Regions from separate parts of the Homo sapiens genome. Here region 1 is linked to region 2. Evidence: fine-mapped expression QTL. A gene starts in region 2. The other region holds a variant in brackets. All regions are shown on one strand. Distances are from middle to middle. Region 1 overlaps LINC02608 (long intergenic non-protein coding RNA 2608). Region 2 holds the start of PPP2R5A (protein phosphatase 2 regulatory subunit B'alpha).

The links.
Region 1: its variant is fine-mapped to the expression of PPP2R5A in lung (TOPMed, PIP above 0.99).

The regions. Positions count from the first base shown.
Region 1 is chr1:212,221,631-212,230,367 of GRCh38, reverse strand. LINC02608 (long intergenic non-protein coding RNA 2608) reads left to right here. Exons shown (of 4, transcript NR_125984.1): 3 at 109-165; 4 at 4,855-5,090. Among named protein-coding and RNA genes, the nearest start is that of LINC02608, 59 kb to the left of the region's middle. The variant CCCTTCTCCCA/A (reference allele first, on the strand shown) is at 5,274.
Region 2 is chr1:212,281,753-212,290,489 of GRCh38, reverse strand. It overlaps PPP2R5A (protein phosphatase 2 regulatory subunit B'alpha), which reads right to left and starts at 5,080. Exons shown (of 13, transcript NM_006243.4): 1 at 4,199-5,080. The coding sequence starts at 4,379. It overlaps LINC02608 (long intergenic non-protein coding RNA 2608), which reads left to right and starts at 5,469. Exons shown (of 4, transcript NR_125984.1): 1 at 5,469-5,511. RefSeq lists a silencer at 4,348-5,317 and an enhancer at 5,488-5,567.

The DNA of each region.
Region 1 (8,737 bases), 60 kb after region 2:
ACTACCCACTGCCCATTTCCCCTTACATGACTCTTCACCCCTGAGTACATATATGTCATGTACTGGCCTTCAAGAGTGATCTTTCATTTCAGCTTTCATTTCTTCCAGGATTCCCCAGGATCAACCATCTGAGCAGATACCTTGGAATGTCCCCAGATTTCAGAGGTAAGTCACTAGTACTGTCCCACAGTAGTAGACATCATTTCTGCCCTGCCCCTGTGGTCCTAACCATATGCAGTGACATCAAAATCTGGTGTCATATCTCATGGAAGACCCATACCCCCAAAGCCCTTCATCCCATTCCCTTTATCCAGTGCTCATAAACCATGTGAATGACCTGGCCTGCCAGGTAAAGGCCTTGAGCCCTGCTCCTTTTTCAGCCACTCCCAATCAATCTGCCATCATCTCTTCCAGGAAGCTTCCTGCCTTCTCTCCCAAGCCAAGCTGGATTAGGGACCCCTACATTGAGCTCACCCTGTACTTATCTCTATCGTTAACCACTGTACTGGAATGATCTGTGCCTCCATCTGCCTCCCACGCTAAACTGAGTTCCAGGAGGGCTGGGGCCATGTGTTATTCATCTCTGCATCTCCAGCATTTAGACTGTGACTAATATATAGTAAGCAGGCAGTACATGTTGAAAGAAATAAATAAAGGTGGGGAGAGGAAGGGAGGAGGGAAAAGAAAGAAAGCAAGGAAGAAAAAAAGAAGAGGGCGGGCGCAGTGGCTCACGCCTGTAATCCCAGCACTTTGGGAGGCCGAGATAGGTGGATCACAAGGTCAGGAGATCGAGACCATCCTGGCTAAGGCAGTGAAACCCTGTCTCTACTAAAAATACAAAAAAATAGCTGGACATGGTGGCGGGCGCCTGTAGTCCCAGCCAGTTGGGAGGCTGAGGCAGGAGAATGCCGTGAACCTGGGAGGCAGAGCTTGCAGTGAGCTGAGATTGCACCACTGCACTCCAGCCTGGGCGGCAGAGAGAGACTCCGTTTCAAAAAAAAAAAAAAGAAGAAGAAGAAAGGGAAAAGGAGGAAGGTAAGGAAAGAATGAAAGTCATAAGAAGAAGGAAATAATGAGAATAGGCTGGATCGAATTCTGTAGAATAATTCCCAATGTCCCTGAACAGTGACGCTAAAGCCCATCCTTCTCTATATTTAATCTTCCAACATCTTCTTCTCTGTTACTAGTATAAAAACAGAATAAGTTTATATGGGCCCATTAAAATCATTGTCTAAATAATCATGATGATTCCTGGAGCCCTAGGTCATCAGAAACCCCTATAAAGTCCTCTCTAATGACAGCAGGACATAAAACCATCACCAAACACAAACACTGAACCCTTTCCTCGTCACAAATACACACTCCACTCAGCGGCCAAGGTCAGTCACTTCTTGTGTACATGAACCCTCCCCGGTCCGCCCCTGCTGACAAACATTTCCACACACATCCAAGGAGAATGAGAGAGGGACCAAAAAGCTCTTAGGAATTCAGTGGCATAATCACCTTACAGGTATCACCACAAATGGAGAGGGGCAGGAACCCAGAAAGGCAAAAGGCAAAACAAAACAGCTAGATAATCAAGAAAGTATCCACATGTTTACACACACACACCTACTCAACAGTTTAACTTCCCTAATAATGTTTTGCTCCGATTAATAATTAAATGGCCTGTGTACTTTGAATAGACGCCAACTACTTCTCAGCAAGGAGAAGTGGTAGAGAACATATCAACGAGGTCAGCCCGGAATGAAAATGAGCCAGTCCACCATGAAGATAATCAAGAGCTTCTTGCATTCATTCCCTGTATCTGCTCAAAATTTTTAATTCAAATTTGCTTAACTCAAAATTTTGTTTAAGTCAAAATTTTAGGGATTAGAGATGAGGTGTGGAGAAAGTTCACTTTAACAACTTTGTTCTATTCCAGCCAATTCAGTCATTGTTCTCTCCACACAGAATAGAAGCAATAGTTTGATCCTGAAGCCTGAGCTAAACTCTGTTGGTTGTGTTTGGAGGACAGCTCCCCTTGGCTTTGTGGGCTAACCCCCATGTGTCCTCTCTCTCCCTTCAGCAGATGCTCCCTTACGGATACCACGCCATCCCTCTGAACACAGTATATATTCCTCATGATTCATTGTGGTCAGGAATTTAATTACTGACCACAAATTTTGTGGGAATTATCTCCCAGGGAATTGGGAAAATGAGTGTGATTGTAGGAAAAGATAATCTATTACAGATTATTTTTAAAATAATGTCAAATGTTAATCTTGTATATGGGAAGAGAGGGAAAGACTAAGTTAAAGATAGCAGAAGGTCTGAGGGATCCCAACTAGTGCTCAGGTAAGGAGGATGGGAAAGAGGGAAAGGAGAATGCGAAGGAAGAAGGCATATTTGGACAAAAGGCACATGCCACATGGAATCGTTTTCCCCCAATCAAAGGAGTGTGGGTGCTTCCCAGGAGGGCACAGTGTCACTCTCCAGGTACCCACCTGGCATGGAGGCAGGGGGGCCTGCCCGTGCCTGCCTCTTTCCCACTCTCCTTTTTCTTCCTTCTTCCTCCCTGCCTCCTTTCCTTCCATCCACTTTTACTGACCACCTGTGTGTTAGGTGCTGTGGAGGTGGTGGGAATATAAAAACAACAGAAGAGTCTCTAATGTCCAGTCATTAAGCAGTAGCTAGTAACCAACAAGTTCAGCAAAGCAAGCTATGCAACCATATCACAGGGCTTGTGCTAATAAATGTGGCGGGGCCCAGTGTGCCTCAGTGGAGGCAGCAGCCATTTCCACCTGGCAGCCAATAGTTGATTTCAGCAACAATATTGTTCTCAAAATTTCCCCACACCTACCGCTCTAGAATAAAAGAAAATAGAGACATGACAACCAAATGCAATGTAAGAGTTTTGATTGGATCTTGTTTGAAAAAAAAACATCCAAAGTCCATTGACTTTGGAGAATCAGAAGAGGGAGGATGAGAGAGGGGTATGGGATAAAAAACTACATATTGGGTACAATGTACACTACTTGGGTGATGGGTGCATGAAAATGTCAGACGTCACCACTCTGCGGTTCATCCACGTAACCAAAAACATTTGTACCCCAAAAGCTACTGAAATTTTTTAAAACACACACACACACAAACATCTGTTAGAAGACATATTGGGAAACATTTTGGAAAATGTTATATGATTTGGGAATTGGGAACCAGGGGATATTAGGTAATTATCATTAATTTTCTTAAGTGTAAAAAAGGTTACTGTGAGTATGTCAGAGGATGTCCTTATTTTAAAGAGATGTGTGCTGAAGTATTTAGGGATGATGTCTGTATCTTACATTGAAATAGTTTAGGAAAAAACATATATTTGGTAAAATGTATACAACTGTAGAATCTAGAAGAGGGATTTCAGTGTCAACTGTACTATTATTTCACCTTTTCTATGCATTTGAAATTTTTTATAATAAAAAATTTGAATAAAAAATTATCTCCACTTGCTAGCTGTAGGCCTTTAGTAGAATAAAGCCTTCTGTGTGTCAATTAGCTAACAAATAATCATAACTAACATTTGTCATGTGACAGGCAATGCTGAGAGCTGGCATGCAATAATTTCAGTATGAGCTTTTCTTTACAGAGAGGAAAACCGAGGCTTGGCAAGGTTAAGTTCTTATCCCAAGGCACGCAGATAGTAACTGTCAGGGCCAGATCCCAGCCTGGCTTTGATCTGGTTCTAAACTACCCACTCTTAACTGCCAACTTCTACTGACAGCCTTCTAGAAAAAACCCTGACATTCAATGTCTGGGTGAAGTAATAGTAACAGGAATCATTGCCATGAAGGGCAGTCTGTCAACTTGGGCGTGCAAACAACCATCCTAAGAGCCTTTCTTGCTCTGATAGGGAGAAAAAAAGGCTTCGGGGGCTACCAGAGGAGAAGAGGCCATCAGTGAGTGAGGAAAGGGCATGGAGAGAGGAAGTGGGGAAGGGAAACGGCCTCACCTTATGGACCTGCAGTTCTGTGGGACGAATTAAAGCTGTAAAGCAGGTATTTTTGACTGGAGCAGCAGACAAATGTTTCTGCTTAGTAGAAAAGTTACTGCAGTCAATGCTGTTCCACATCACTAATGAAGGCTGAAAAAAACCACAGCTGAAAGGTATAATGGTGCTTTCTTCTAGAGGGTTGCTTAAGCAAGGTCTCATTGTGCCTGAAGTCTGTATTATTTACTGGCCATTCAGGATGTGCAATGCGATTTAAGAGAGCGGTGCTGGGCTGCATTGAGCCAGCTATACCCTCTTACTCAGTCCCCTGTACAACAGGGCCAGAGAGAGTGGAGGGCAGGATGTGCCCAGCCAATTGGCCTCTATAGGAATTTCAACCATGACCTCGACCTTATTTGCTCTCTGCTCCAGTCTCCTGACTAACCAACCATTGCATGGCAGAGCCTGAGTTCCACAGCCAGCCTGGCGGAGCCACCATGTAATAGTCCAGGGTCAAGCTGTATTTTGCTTTTGGTGTATAAAATGCAAGAACTGGAGAAATCATGTAAAAAGTCAGGAGGAGGTAAACATTTCAAGCACCAGCCTCCCCGGAATTCGGCATTAGAACAAAAGCCACTTCCTTCAGTGCCCTTTTCTTACAGAGCAGCTTTTCCTGTGAGGAGAGAGTTACGTCATTAACACCTTGGTTAGTGGGGTGTTCTGAGTTGTCGGGATTAACCATCTAGGCAGTGGGGTGAAGGGTCCCGTTATGCAGAATGTGGGGACTGCCCCTGAGATGTTTTTGTTTTTAAAACACAATTGTGCCAGCTGATCTCAGTACACATTTCTAGAAAAATCACAGCCTATGACATCACAGACCTTCCTTTCAGCCTCGGACCAGCAGCAACACACTCTGAAGTAGGTCTCAGAAGACAAAAAGCTGAAATCAACTCATGCTTCCTGCTACACAGAATCCACTGAGAGGAAAAGGAAACTTCACCGAAACTTCAGAAAGCTACAGAAATGACATCCATTTTCACAATCCCAGAAGGAAAGATGCATCTGAAGGGAATAAAAACAGAGCAATGGAAGAGTATTTGTTAAAATAAATGGCTTTGACAGGGCATTTTCTCTAAAGGTCTCCTTTGCCTCAAATAGTACTCCTGCCTTCAGTCCATCTTGCATGCCACCCAGCTGTGGGCATCCTGGCAGTTGCTGCCATGTCCTTGCCTAAAAGCCTCCACCCCCAACCAACCCACCCACCCCACAACTGGTCTCCCTTTCTCTGGCTTCTTGGAGCAATAAGACC[CCCTTCTCCCA/A]GTGGGGGATCTTTCTGAAAGGTAAACATGAACCCACTCCTCTCCTGCTCAAAAATAGTGGCCGGCTCTCGATCTCCCCAAAGATAGAAATGCACACTTTGGCCGGATGTGGAGGTTCATGCCTGTAATCCTAGCACTTTGGGAGGCCAAGGCGGGTGGATCACCTGAAGTCAGGAGTTGAAGACCAGCCTGGCCAACATGGTGAAACCCTGTGCCTACTAAAAGTACAAAAATTAGCCAGGCATGGTGGCACACACTTGTAATCCCAGCTACTTGGGAGGCTGAGGCAGGAGAATTGCTTGGACCTGGGTGGCGGAGGTTGCAGTGAGCTGAGATCGTGCCATTGCACTCCAGCCTGGGTGACAGAGAGAGACTCTGTCTCAAAAAAAAAAAAAAAAAAAAGAAAGAAAGAAAAATAAAAAGAAATGCACACTTTATTTGGCACCCGGGCCCTAATGACCTTTCTCCTGCCCGGTTTTCCCAGACTGTCTGCTACCACACGGTGTGTGCAGCCTTTCTCCCAATCACACGGACTCCTCTGAATGCATGCCTGTCTTTCTTGTGTGGCGTCTGCCTGTGCCTTTGCACTCACTGTCCGCTTGTCTAAAATGCTCTTCCTCCAAATCCACAGAGAAAACATAACCCAAATGCCACCTCCTCAGTGAAGCCCCTCCAGAAGTTTCTTTCTTTCTCTCTCTCTGTCTCTCTCTCTCTCTGCGTGTCTCTCTCTCTCCACACACACCCTGCTCACCTCCCCAGCCACACAGGTATCACTCCTCTTTTCAGGGCTCTGCTCTGTTCTCTGTTCACAGATCTGCCACCCACACTAGTCTGTGAGCACTCTCTTGGGGACAGAGCCCATGAAGTGCTCATCTTTGTGTTCCCAGTTCTTAGCCCAGTGCCTGGCACCCAGTAGGTGCTTCATAATCTAAGTCCCCCAACCAGCAAGGCCAAATTCTGCTTTTTCCAAGTCATCCTCAACACTCCATAGGAAAGAGTTCTGCTACCACAGAACAATGTATTCTATATTGCCTATAAATTATTACATTTCTCTCTTCCTGGAGATATATATATAGATACACACACACACACACACACACACACACACACACACACACATATGTATATATGGATATATAGGCACCCGGCCTATACAACCTAAATCTTAACAGAAACTCTTGGCTTCTGTATGAGGGACAAATGGAGTCAGTCTTTAGGCTAACATTTTTTCTATAAACTAAGATTTTAAAACAATTGATGTTGATATCTTAAAGGGTCAGTCAACAAATTAATTAATCAAAATTATCTCCTAAACAACAGCCAAGGGCTAATGGAAGGGTGGGAGAGAATTAAAAAATGTGACTTCCCTAAGGCATATTATAGTTTAATAGGACAAAATTTTAAAAATTCGATAATTTAAAAAATTTTTTAGAGACAGGGTTTTGTTCTGTCACCCAGGCTGGAGTGCAGTGGCATGATCACAGTTCACTACAGCCTCAAGCTCCTGGGCTCACACGATCCTCCCACCTTAGCCTCCCAGTATCTGAGACTACAGGTGCATTGCACTGCACCCAGCTAATTTTTAAGAATTTTTTTGTAGAGGCAGGTGTCGCTATGTTACCCAAGCGGGTCTTCAACTCCTGGGCTTAAGTGATCCTCTTGCCTTGGCCTCCCAAAGTGTTAGGAATATAGGTAAGAGCCACTGTGCCCAGCCTACATCCTAAAATACACTATACACACACACACACACACACACACACACACACACACTGCACTCCAGCCCAGGTGACAGTGTGAGACTCCGTCTCAAGAAAAAAAAAAAAAAGATTTAGGTTGTATATTCAGAAGTTGCAGGAATGCAGTGGCCTAATAGGATAAAACGTCCTGGCACTGTGACCTGGCCTCCTTCCCCATTGTCTGTCCTCTTGCTTGGCCTCTTCTCAGGGTGGGCTCTGCTCTCCCTCCCCAGGGCCAAAGGATTCAGAGGCAACCCAAGATTTACGCATCGAATTCCTCACCAATTTTCTTGCCATCACCCTTGTGGGGTCTGGCTCTCTGCTGTTGCAGTAATATTTTTATTTATTTATTTTATTTATTTATTTATTTATTTTTGAGACGGAGTCTCACTCTGTCACTCAGGCTGGAGTGCAATGGCGTGATCTTGTCTCACTGCAACCTCTGCCACCCATGTTCAAGCGATTCTCCTGCCTCAGCCTCCTAAGTAGCTGGGATTACAGGTGCCCGCCACCACTCCCGGCTAATTTTTGTATTCTTAGCAGAGACAGGGATTCACCATGTTGACCAGCCTGTTGCAGTAATATTAATACTTCATCAACAGGACCTGCCACTCTCTAACCTGCCATCATTCAGTGGCTATAAAGGAGAAAATTAATATACATTGCTTCTTCCAAAGTGACCCTGGAGAAACTTTTTTCCCCCCAATTGTCACTACTTCAGAAATTCTAAAATGAGATTGGGGAAGTTGAAGGATATGTGAAAAGTTCTCCCTTGGCTTCCACCTGCCATTTGTTATCACCAGCTATCTGAAGAGTCCAGTTGCCTGGAGGCCTTCAGCTAGGATGATGGTATTCTTTTTTTTTTCTTTTTTCTTTTTTTTTTTTTTTGAGACAGAATCTCGCTCTTTCGCCCAGGCTGGAGTGCAGTGGTGTGATCTTGGCTCACTGCAACCTCCACTTCCCAGGTTCAAGCGATTCTCCTGCCTCAGCCTCCTGAGTAGCTGGGATCACAGGTGCATGCTACCACACCCGGCTAATTTTTTTGTATTTTTAGTAGAGATAGGGTTTCACCATGTTGGTCAGGCTGGTCTCAAACTCCTGACCTTGTGATCTGCCCGCCTCGGCCTCCCAAAGTGCTGGGATTACAGGCATGAGCCACCATGCCTGGCCTGGGATGGTGATATTCTAGGCAGTGTCTCCAGGCTGCCAAGTAAAGCAGTTTCAGAATGGCCTCAGGGTTGATGTCAGCCAAAGGAAAGCAGCTGGTGTCTTTATCCATGACCCTCCTTCCATCTCCATGACTCTGCATTATCCTCCCATGGCCATCCTGCCACAAACTCCCCCTCAAAGGCCTTAGCAGAGGGCCAAGAATTTGTTAGTTGAGGGAAAAAACTTGTTTCAATGTCAAACTGACATTCCTAAGGGCTCCTGCAGCCTCCCCTACCGGAATCCTTCAGATCCTGGGCTTGAATGTTGGTGAGATGGGAATCTAAGTCTGTGCAGCTGTGCAGTCAAGGAGTGGCCAGGTGTTAAGGACATGAGGACAGGGTCAGAGACTAGTTACTGGAGAGATGGACACACATGGGCCCAGGACAGCCTGAGAAGGCCATAAAAAGTCCTGGCATTGTGCCCCAGCCACCTTCTCCATTGTCTTTCTTAACGACACGATCACTGTTAACCAATGGTGGCCCAAACCAAATTCAAGGTCCTGAGAACCC
Region 2 (8,737 bases):
AGAAAATAGTCCTAAAATGACTAAAATGTTATTTCCTTTTGTAAACAATTTTCTTAACATCTTCAGATGAATTTGAACTCTCCTCTAGTGCCATCCCAACTGTGTTTAGATGGAATGATAGTAACTTTGAGAAGATCTATAAACCTTAAAAGTTGAGTGAGTAGTACGGTTTTCTCTCCACAAAAAGGTTTAGCTATAGAACTTAAGATAATGTCAGTGTTCTTGTTCCACAATTACCTTAGATCACCTACTTTAGAAAACACACACATTTTTCCCCCTAAAGGTAAGGAAGCACTGCAATCAACACCACTATTACTGGCCTCAATACCTCTAGTGGGACACAGTTGCTAAGAATGGACCAACAAAGAATCTTGAGTGCTACTTGGGAAAGTTTTACCTCTTCTGAAGGGGACTTCAATCTCAAAGCCAGTTTCAGCCTATCTTGCTATTTATTTCCCGGCTGTCTCCTAAGATGACTGCACATCTATATAATTCTACTGGTTAGGTTGATTTCTTCGCTTGGTAAAAAAATCTTATCACAGCTTTTAATGTTTTAAAGAGTCTGACTTAATCCTATTTCCATTTCTACACTCGTGCTGAAAGATGTTGCAGCTGCACTTCAGATCACATAAATCATATCTGAAAACTGATTATAAATAAAATCACTTTAAATACACTAGGAAAGTTTACCATTTAAGTAAGTAATCCTATTAATAATCCTTCATTTAAAAATATTTTTAATCTGGATTTTCAAATATTTAAGAGAATGGGAACTAACATTCTTTGCCTATTTTTAGGCACTTAAATTATTCCCCTTAATCCCCACAGGCCTGGGGAGATTTGTATTATCCCCATTTTACAGATAAGGAAAACGACTTAGAAAGATTAAAAATTTACCTTTGACCCAGGACTAACCCCAGAGACCCAACTCTATCACACTGCTTCAAATTTACATAAAACAGTTAACAGCACAAATACTGAAATCATTTGACCTAGGTCCCAGTGTCAGCTGCAACATCATCCAGATAAGTAATCACAGGCCAGAAACTATTCTTTTTAGGCCTCAACTTTCTCATCAATAAAATGGGAATACTGACCTTGCAAAAAGTTCAGGGATGACCCAATGAATAGGATGTTTGTAAAAATACAATGAGCCATGGATTATCAAACAACAGTATTACCCTTACTTACTAGGTGTGAAAAAGCAGGAGATACACAGGGATTAAGGGTTACATATCTTTGGATTGTTTCACTTGGTATGAACAATACTGTTTTATAATTTAAGAAAATTTTTAAGGTAAAATAATTTTAAAATGCTAAAATGTTATATAAATGTAAGGCATCAACTACTTTACCAAACCAAGCCTTCCAGAATCTTAAACAAAATAGGTTAGACTGAAAAGCCTTTTAACAAGGCTTGTTGTTTATTAAATACTTTCAATTATAAAACAATTTATTCTGAACATTTTTGCCATTAAAATCCCACAACCCACTTACTAAATTATTTTGCACAAATACTTCTTACAGGTGAAAAGGCTGGATTATTTTGTTAATCCTTACTATGGTTTGAGGAAAACTAGTTGGCACCTTTCCAGTTCAGATGCATGTGGTCAAAGTAACATAAGCAGGCTGGTATGAAACTTAAAAGATCTTGGAGTCCATGGATATCTGAATCACTCCACAGTAAGATGGTATTTCAGAGGAGGAAGAAAATTCTTTCTTTCATACACATACTAAAGGGCTTTCCATGTTTTTGTGAAGGCCACAAATGGAAAAAACTACCACTGGCAGAAAAAACACAACACTGTGGTATCAAGTACACTGCCAAAGTTCCAATTGAAGCAATTGAATGTTGGTGTTTTTTTTTTAAATCACTTGCAAGCATTTTGGCATCTGGAGTAAAAGAAGTTGTTCCTATTAGTTTGTAATCCAAGTAAGGGTCTTATTTCCTCAATTAAATTTGCATAAATTTATCCTGAATACATAATTTTCCTTATGATGAATACTGTATTTTCATGCAAATATCTACAATTAATGTAAAGTTCCAATTTACTTTCTTCTTTACTAGTGACCAAATACTATATGGCACCTTCAACTTGTTGAACCCTACATCATATAACTTAGATGATTACTGACTCTATGCATATTTTTCCAAGCTTTTAAAAGCAAAATGTGGCCAGGTGCGGTGGCTCACGCCTGTAATCCCACCACTTTGGGAGGCTGAGGTGGCCTGATCACCTGAGGTCAGGAGTTGGAGACCAGCCTCACCAACATGGTGAAACCCCATCTCTACTAAGAATACGAAATTAGCCGGCCATGGTGACACATGCCTGTAATCCCAGCTAGTTGGGAGGCTGAGGCAGAAGAATTGTTTGAACCCGGGAGGCGGAGGTTGCAGTGAGCTGAGATCGCGCCATTGCACTCCAGCCTGAGCAACGAAAGTGAAAAAATAAAATAAAATAAATAAAATAAAAGCAAAACCTATCAAAGCTGCATCTCCTGGCTTGAAACCAACCAAATGTTTAATATTCAATTACTTTTATTAAAGTATACTATTAAGAAGTACAATACTAAGAAACTAGAATATCTTACTAAAAAGCAAATTAAATAACTATGAAATAACCCTAGCACCAAACCTTCAAACTACAGTTTGACAATTTAATGGGAGAAAAAAAATCAGTAGTATAAAAAAACTATGATATTTTAAATAAGTGTAAATTTTAAAATCTATGAATAGCAAAGACGATATTCTTTTATAGCTATGACATCATTCAAGAATTAAAGTCTTGGCAATGCCTATCATTATAGTCTACCATTTTGCTATGTAAATTTTAACAATTTTTATATGCTAAAGAGCAATCAAATGATAAATTCGATAGCACAGACTAATATCTCAAAATCTCTGTTCAAAAGCCAGTTTGATTCTAACTGTGAGATGTCATGATTTAGAAGCACTCCAAGAGTCAGGGCAAGGTAGGGTCTCAATAGGGTTCTGGAGCTGTTGTAGGTCAACTGTGATTTGATCTGGGGTTTTCTTTAGACTCCTTGCCAAACTAAGGCTGGATTCACAGGCCCAAAGACAAATGAGAACCAGACTGGCCTTGAAGGGGATGCTGCAGCTTTTTCAAATGAATTGAAAAATCTGAACATCAGATGATAGGGATTTCCGTCAGGTTGCAAATTTTATCTAAATATGTAGGAGCATTATCATCTTGTTCCAACATTTCTATCTCATAAAAAGCAAGGACATTAAAATTATAAAATTAAGCATGAGTAATACACAAAGAATAAACTAGAACACCAGGAAATAACATCGAAAATCCTCTAAACCTAGTGGGAAAAGTGAGCCAAAAAGAGTGCCAAGTTCTCCTGCAAGGCATTAGGCACGGATACCAATTTGAATTCCTGTACAAACCTACAAAGTCCCTGGAATCACTGCCTGGCAAACTAAGTTCCCATTCGACTGCAAAGCAACACTACCTACTCCTTCGTATTTCCAAATAGACCATGTGTATCGGCTCAGACAACAGAATATTTTAAATCTATTCCTTGAGCTAAAGGATACCATTTAAAGCTAACGATCCTGTGAATAAGATACTACACTGGTCAAATTTTAGGCTTTTTCTTTATAAATACATCCAAAGGCCAGCTAACTCTTAACCGTTGTTTGCATTCGGATTCCTGGTCTGATGACTCTTAGGGGCAATCAATGGGAAGTGAAGTTGAGAAGAAGGTGGGTGCAGACGGCTTTATAACTGTAAAAGTAAAGGACTAGCTAAAAGTGGCCGAACAGAGGAGCTGACACTCGGGAAAGTGAAGGTCGGGGAAGGTTCGTGCGGTTGTTAAAGCAAGACCGGGAAAGGGCAAACCTGGAAGAGGAGTGAAGGACTCTACTTCACGGGACGCAAGATAGGAAGTGCAGGTTAAGCAAGCGCGCAGGTGGGGAAGGGTGTTGGCCTCCCCTAGGATGGAAAGAGTTCAGGTGGGAATTAGAAGGAAACAGCCAAGACTTCACAGAAAACCTGTTTGAATAAGGAGGAGGGCGTGAGGTGACGCCAAGGCATTGTGGGGAACTCGGCTCACACACTACCAGTCCCAACTGAGCAGGAGAAACCCAGCAGGAAATGGCTCTGCTGGCGCAGAGGCAAGCGTTGCCAGCCCCTGCGCTCGCTGCTGGGGCTGCGCCCTCGGAGGTTACCTTTGAGCTGGGGCAGCGGGTGCAGCTCTGCCTGGCTGCCCTGGCTGCGAAACTGCGACGAGCCCTGGGAGCGCTTCTGCCTCTGCGCCTTGCGGACCGATTTCCGGGTGAAGCCGTCCACTTTCTCCGAGGCCGAGATGGCGGCGCTGGCAGCCCCCGCCGGCGGCGACGACGACGACATCTCCGCGGCCCTGACGCTTGGCAGCTCCGGCTGCTGCTTGCAAGGCACGGGCAGCGGCGGAGACGGCAGGAGGAGGCGGGGGAGAGGCGCGGGGTGCTCGCGCCCCTGCGCCCCGGCCCCACGGCCCTCCGGCCCCGGGACGCCGCCGAGCTTCTCCTCGCCGCCCGCCAACGCCTCACGGCCACATCTCAGCGCTGGAGGTTCCTGGTCCCCGGCGCGCGGCGAGCTCCCGGGGCTGACGGAGGGAAGGGCGGGGGCGGAGGGGGGTGAAGAAGTTGTTGACTCTGGGCGCGCAGAGCGGGTGGAAGAGAGCCCGAAGTTTAGACAACTGAGGCGGGGGCACGGGGGTGCGGGTGCCGAGCGCGCCTCTCGTCGCTTCTGCCCCCGTCGCCAGCCAGCCGGCCGGCCAGCACCTCAGCGGCCGCTGCCAGCGCAGCCCGCCCTGCCTGGAGCCTCCTCTCAGGGCGCTGCCATCGCGGGTCCCCTCGGAGCCACTGCCGCGGTGCCCGCTCTTCCCGGTCAACGCCGGCCCCTCATCGCCCGGGGCGCTGCCCCGTAGCCCCGGCCCTCTGCGTGCACACACTCGCTCCTTGCCGCGCTGGGCGGCCCGAACCCCCTCCCCCACGCGCCCGTCGGCCGCCCACGGAGAACCCCAGGCGAGCGACCGCTACAACTTGAGAAGGTGGTTGGTACAGGCGACTGGGGAGTGTGTGCGCGTGTGCGCGCGCCAGGGCGCGCGGCCCGGGGAGGGGCCTCGCAAGGGGTGGGAAGGAGGAGTTTGACTGACAACTTCCGCGGGGTCCCGCCCGCCTCTTGGTGCGGCGGCGGGGGAGGGGGCGGGAAAGCATGCCAGCCCTCTTAGCCAATCACACGGCTAAGCGGCAGCGACGGCGTGAGGTGCGGCCTCTTGAGGCAGAGGAGTGGGGCGGGCTGTGTGACGGGCTTCGGCCACAGCCAATCGTAAGTGAAGACGGCGAGCGGGGTGCCCCTGCGTCAGAACAAATGCGGCAAATCGCTTGGGAGGGAGGGGAAGCGCTCCTCCACCAGCGGGCATTTTTGCGCTCACGCGCGACTGCTCCAGGCTGTCATTGCTCTCCTGACCGTCTACGAGAAGACTGGGAAACTTGAGAGGGTGCGTTCAGAGAGCAAAATAGAGCGCCCCTTCCCTTCCCTCACCTCTCTGCTGGCCAATGAAGAACTGAAGCGATTGGTGGGGCGCCGGAGGGCTGGGGCGCGAAAGAGCGCCAGGTGTTACACCACTGAAAGGGGGCGCAGCAGAGGTCAGGTGGCGAGCAAGCAGTGTGATTGACGGGCGAGGGGCCCGGGGAAGGCGAGAAGGTGAGCTCGTCCAATCGTTGCGAGGTCTGGACACCTGGGCGGGTCTTGGCGCCTTACTGGCCCCAAACCGCAAAATTGGTAGTTGCGGAATAAATTTGTAGCTCTTGGGAGGTTCGGACTCCGCAACTCCAGAGAGCTACTCTCGCGTGGGGTTTGGGCAGTCTAGCATCTGCTGCTTCAAAGAGTTCTGCAAGTCCACGCCCTCTAAAAAGAGATTTCTCATTCCCAATTTAGTATCCTGCTAATTTTCACCCCTCCTTGAGCCAAAGGCCCTCAACTACTCCAACGAGAAGAGTACAAATTCATTGGTCAGTGGTGTGTGGATATGGAGGCTTGCCATGTACTCTTACCGGAATCTCTTTCTTGGAGATTCCGTCTAGATTTTGAATTTCTTAAGGACGAGGACTGGTCATCTTAGTTTTTCGTGCAGTGCTTTCCATACGGTGGCCGTTAATAATTATTAATCTGAACAGTCAGCCTCCCTTTGCGCCAATGGACCCAAATCTGTAATCCCCTCCCTCGAGCTCCAGACCTTTTCCTTTCAACATAATAAAAGTAATTGTCGTATATTTAAACGAAGCCACCTGATGCATATGTACAGAAGATTCCAAATTTGGCAGGAAGTTGAATTCTAGACCTAGAACCAAACATACTATCCTCAAAACATTTCCTCCTTCAGATTTGCTGGGCGGTGAAATTGTACATAATCCTCCCAGTCAAGGAGGTTCAAACCTCAGCAGCGTTTCTGACACTTTTCGCTTTCTCACATAGTCAAGCTCCAGATCATGTTAAATCTACTTTCACAATTGGCGTTTCTCCCAATGTGTACAAAGACCGCCAAACGTAGTTCACGGCTTTCAAACTCACTGCCACATCAATCTTTTAAGATCACTTTTATCTTACCTGCGTGTTTGAGGAACCACCCAATACCTGCAGAATAGAGTCCAAATTCAAGACTCTCTGCGATCTGACTCCTGTCTTTCCAAGTGTAAATTCCTACATGTGCCCACAAAAACTCTTTTTAGTTCAGGCACATCATTCCACATACTGATCCCCTAAAAGAAGTTATGCATCCTCAACACTTAGTCTTTGCTGTTCCAACATCTTGAAATAATCCACTTTTTTTTTTCTTTTTTGAGACGGAGTCTTGCTCTGTCACCCAGGCTGGAGTGCAATGGTGGCACAATCTCGGCTCACTGCATGCTCCGCCTCCCGGGTTCAAGCGATTCTCCTGCCTCAGCCTCCCGAGTAGCTGGGATTACAGGCACCTGCCACCACGCCCGGCTAATTTTTTGTATTTTTAGTAGCGACGGGGTTTCACCATGTTGCCCAGGCTTGTCTCGAACTCCTGACCTCGTGATTCGGCCACCTCCGCCTCCCAAAGCGCTGGGATTACAGGCGTGAGCCACCGCGCCCGGCCCATTTTTTTTTCATCTTTTTGAAATTTCTTTTCTTCAAACCCCCTATCTTTTATGAAGCTTGACAATCCAGCCAGAAGTGATGCCTCCCTTCTTTGTATTCCTATTGCATTTAGTGTCCACACCACTCACAGCTGAAAGTTTGTCAACACCAAGAGAGCAAGAACTCAGTTATTTTATTTTACACCTCTGTTTCCCCTACTGAGCAGAGGATAACAATCACATTTTTAGTTCTCAACAGCAGAATTTCTGAAAGCGTGGTTACTGGATCACCTGCATCAGCATCCTCTGGGGTGCTTATTGAAAATGCAGATTCCTGGACCTCCCCCGCCTCCCCCCAACAGAACTAGAACCTATGGGAAGAGCACTGAGAAGTCTATTTTTAATAACTTCCCTAGGTTATTCTTATGTACACAAAAGTTTGGAACTACTATTCTCTAGTCATCTAGAAGTTATTAAAAACAGAATGTAAATGTCTGTAAGTCAGGAGTAGTACTATTTATAATAATTTACATAAAATAAGAAAGGGAGACAAATAGCAGAAAGAAAATCAGTACAGGCCGGGCGCAGTGGCTCACGTCTGTAATCCCAGCACTTTGGGAGGCCGAGGTGGGTGATCACGAGGTCAGGAGTTTGAGACCAGCCTGGCCAACATGGTGAAACCCTGTCTCTACTAAAAATAAAAAATTAGCCAGGTGTGGTGGTACGAGCCTGTAGTCCCAGCTACTCAGGAGGCTGAGGCAGAAGAATCGCTTGAACCCGGGAGGCGGAGGTTGCAGTGAGCCAAGATTGCGCCACTGCACTCCAGCCTGGGTGACAGAGTGAGACTCCGTTTCAAAAAAGAAAAAAAAAAAAAGAAAAGAAAAAAATAAATACAATAAAGCAAATTCTGTAAGTCAATACAATAAATCATATTCCATGTTCATACTGGAATGTGATAAATAATAGATACTGGATATAATAGAAAATACTGGAAACAAGTTTTTGGGAGTCTTGGAACCAGCAAAAACCATCTGGGCTTTGGTGAAACAGCCTCTTGGGGAAGAATTTTGAGCATAATTTTAAAGATCAAGTCAAAACCTGAAAAGAGAGGATGGCATTCCAGATCAAGTCACTAAGCATTTTCCAGGGGGAAGAACAAAAGCCCAAGAATCAAAATGCCTGACTCTGTGCTACTTATCAATAGAATGATTCTGTCCAGTCACTTTTTCCACATGTGTACATCAGAAAAAAAAAATGACAACCTTCTTCACAGGGCTGGCATGAGTTTTAAATATGACCCAAGAAAAAACACTCAGGGAAATAAAAATTATGTAGATGAAAATATTATGCATACATGTATATCAAACGTTTATTTTCCGTCCACTATTTTGAGTAAATAAGGTATCTGGGTCCTAGACAGAGATTTGGTCACTAAGAATCATCTAATAGGAAACTGCAATGACAGTACTAATCTATATGTGCCCCTGAAGCAGGAAGAGTGTCTTTGATTCCATGCCATAGAATTTCTGATCCTTCCCATATGTGAAGCTCCTTGGTCAAGAGCAATTTAGAGGCCAGGATTGCATCACTAACAAATTCCTTGGATGGTTTGTGCTTACA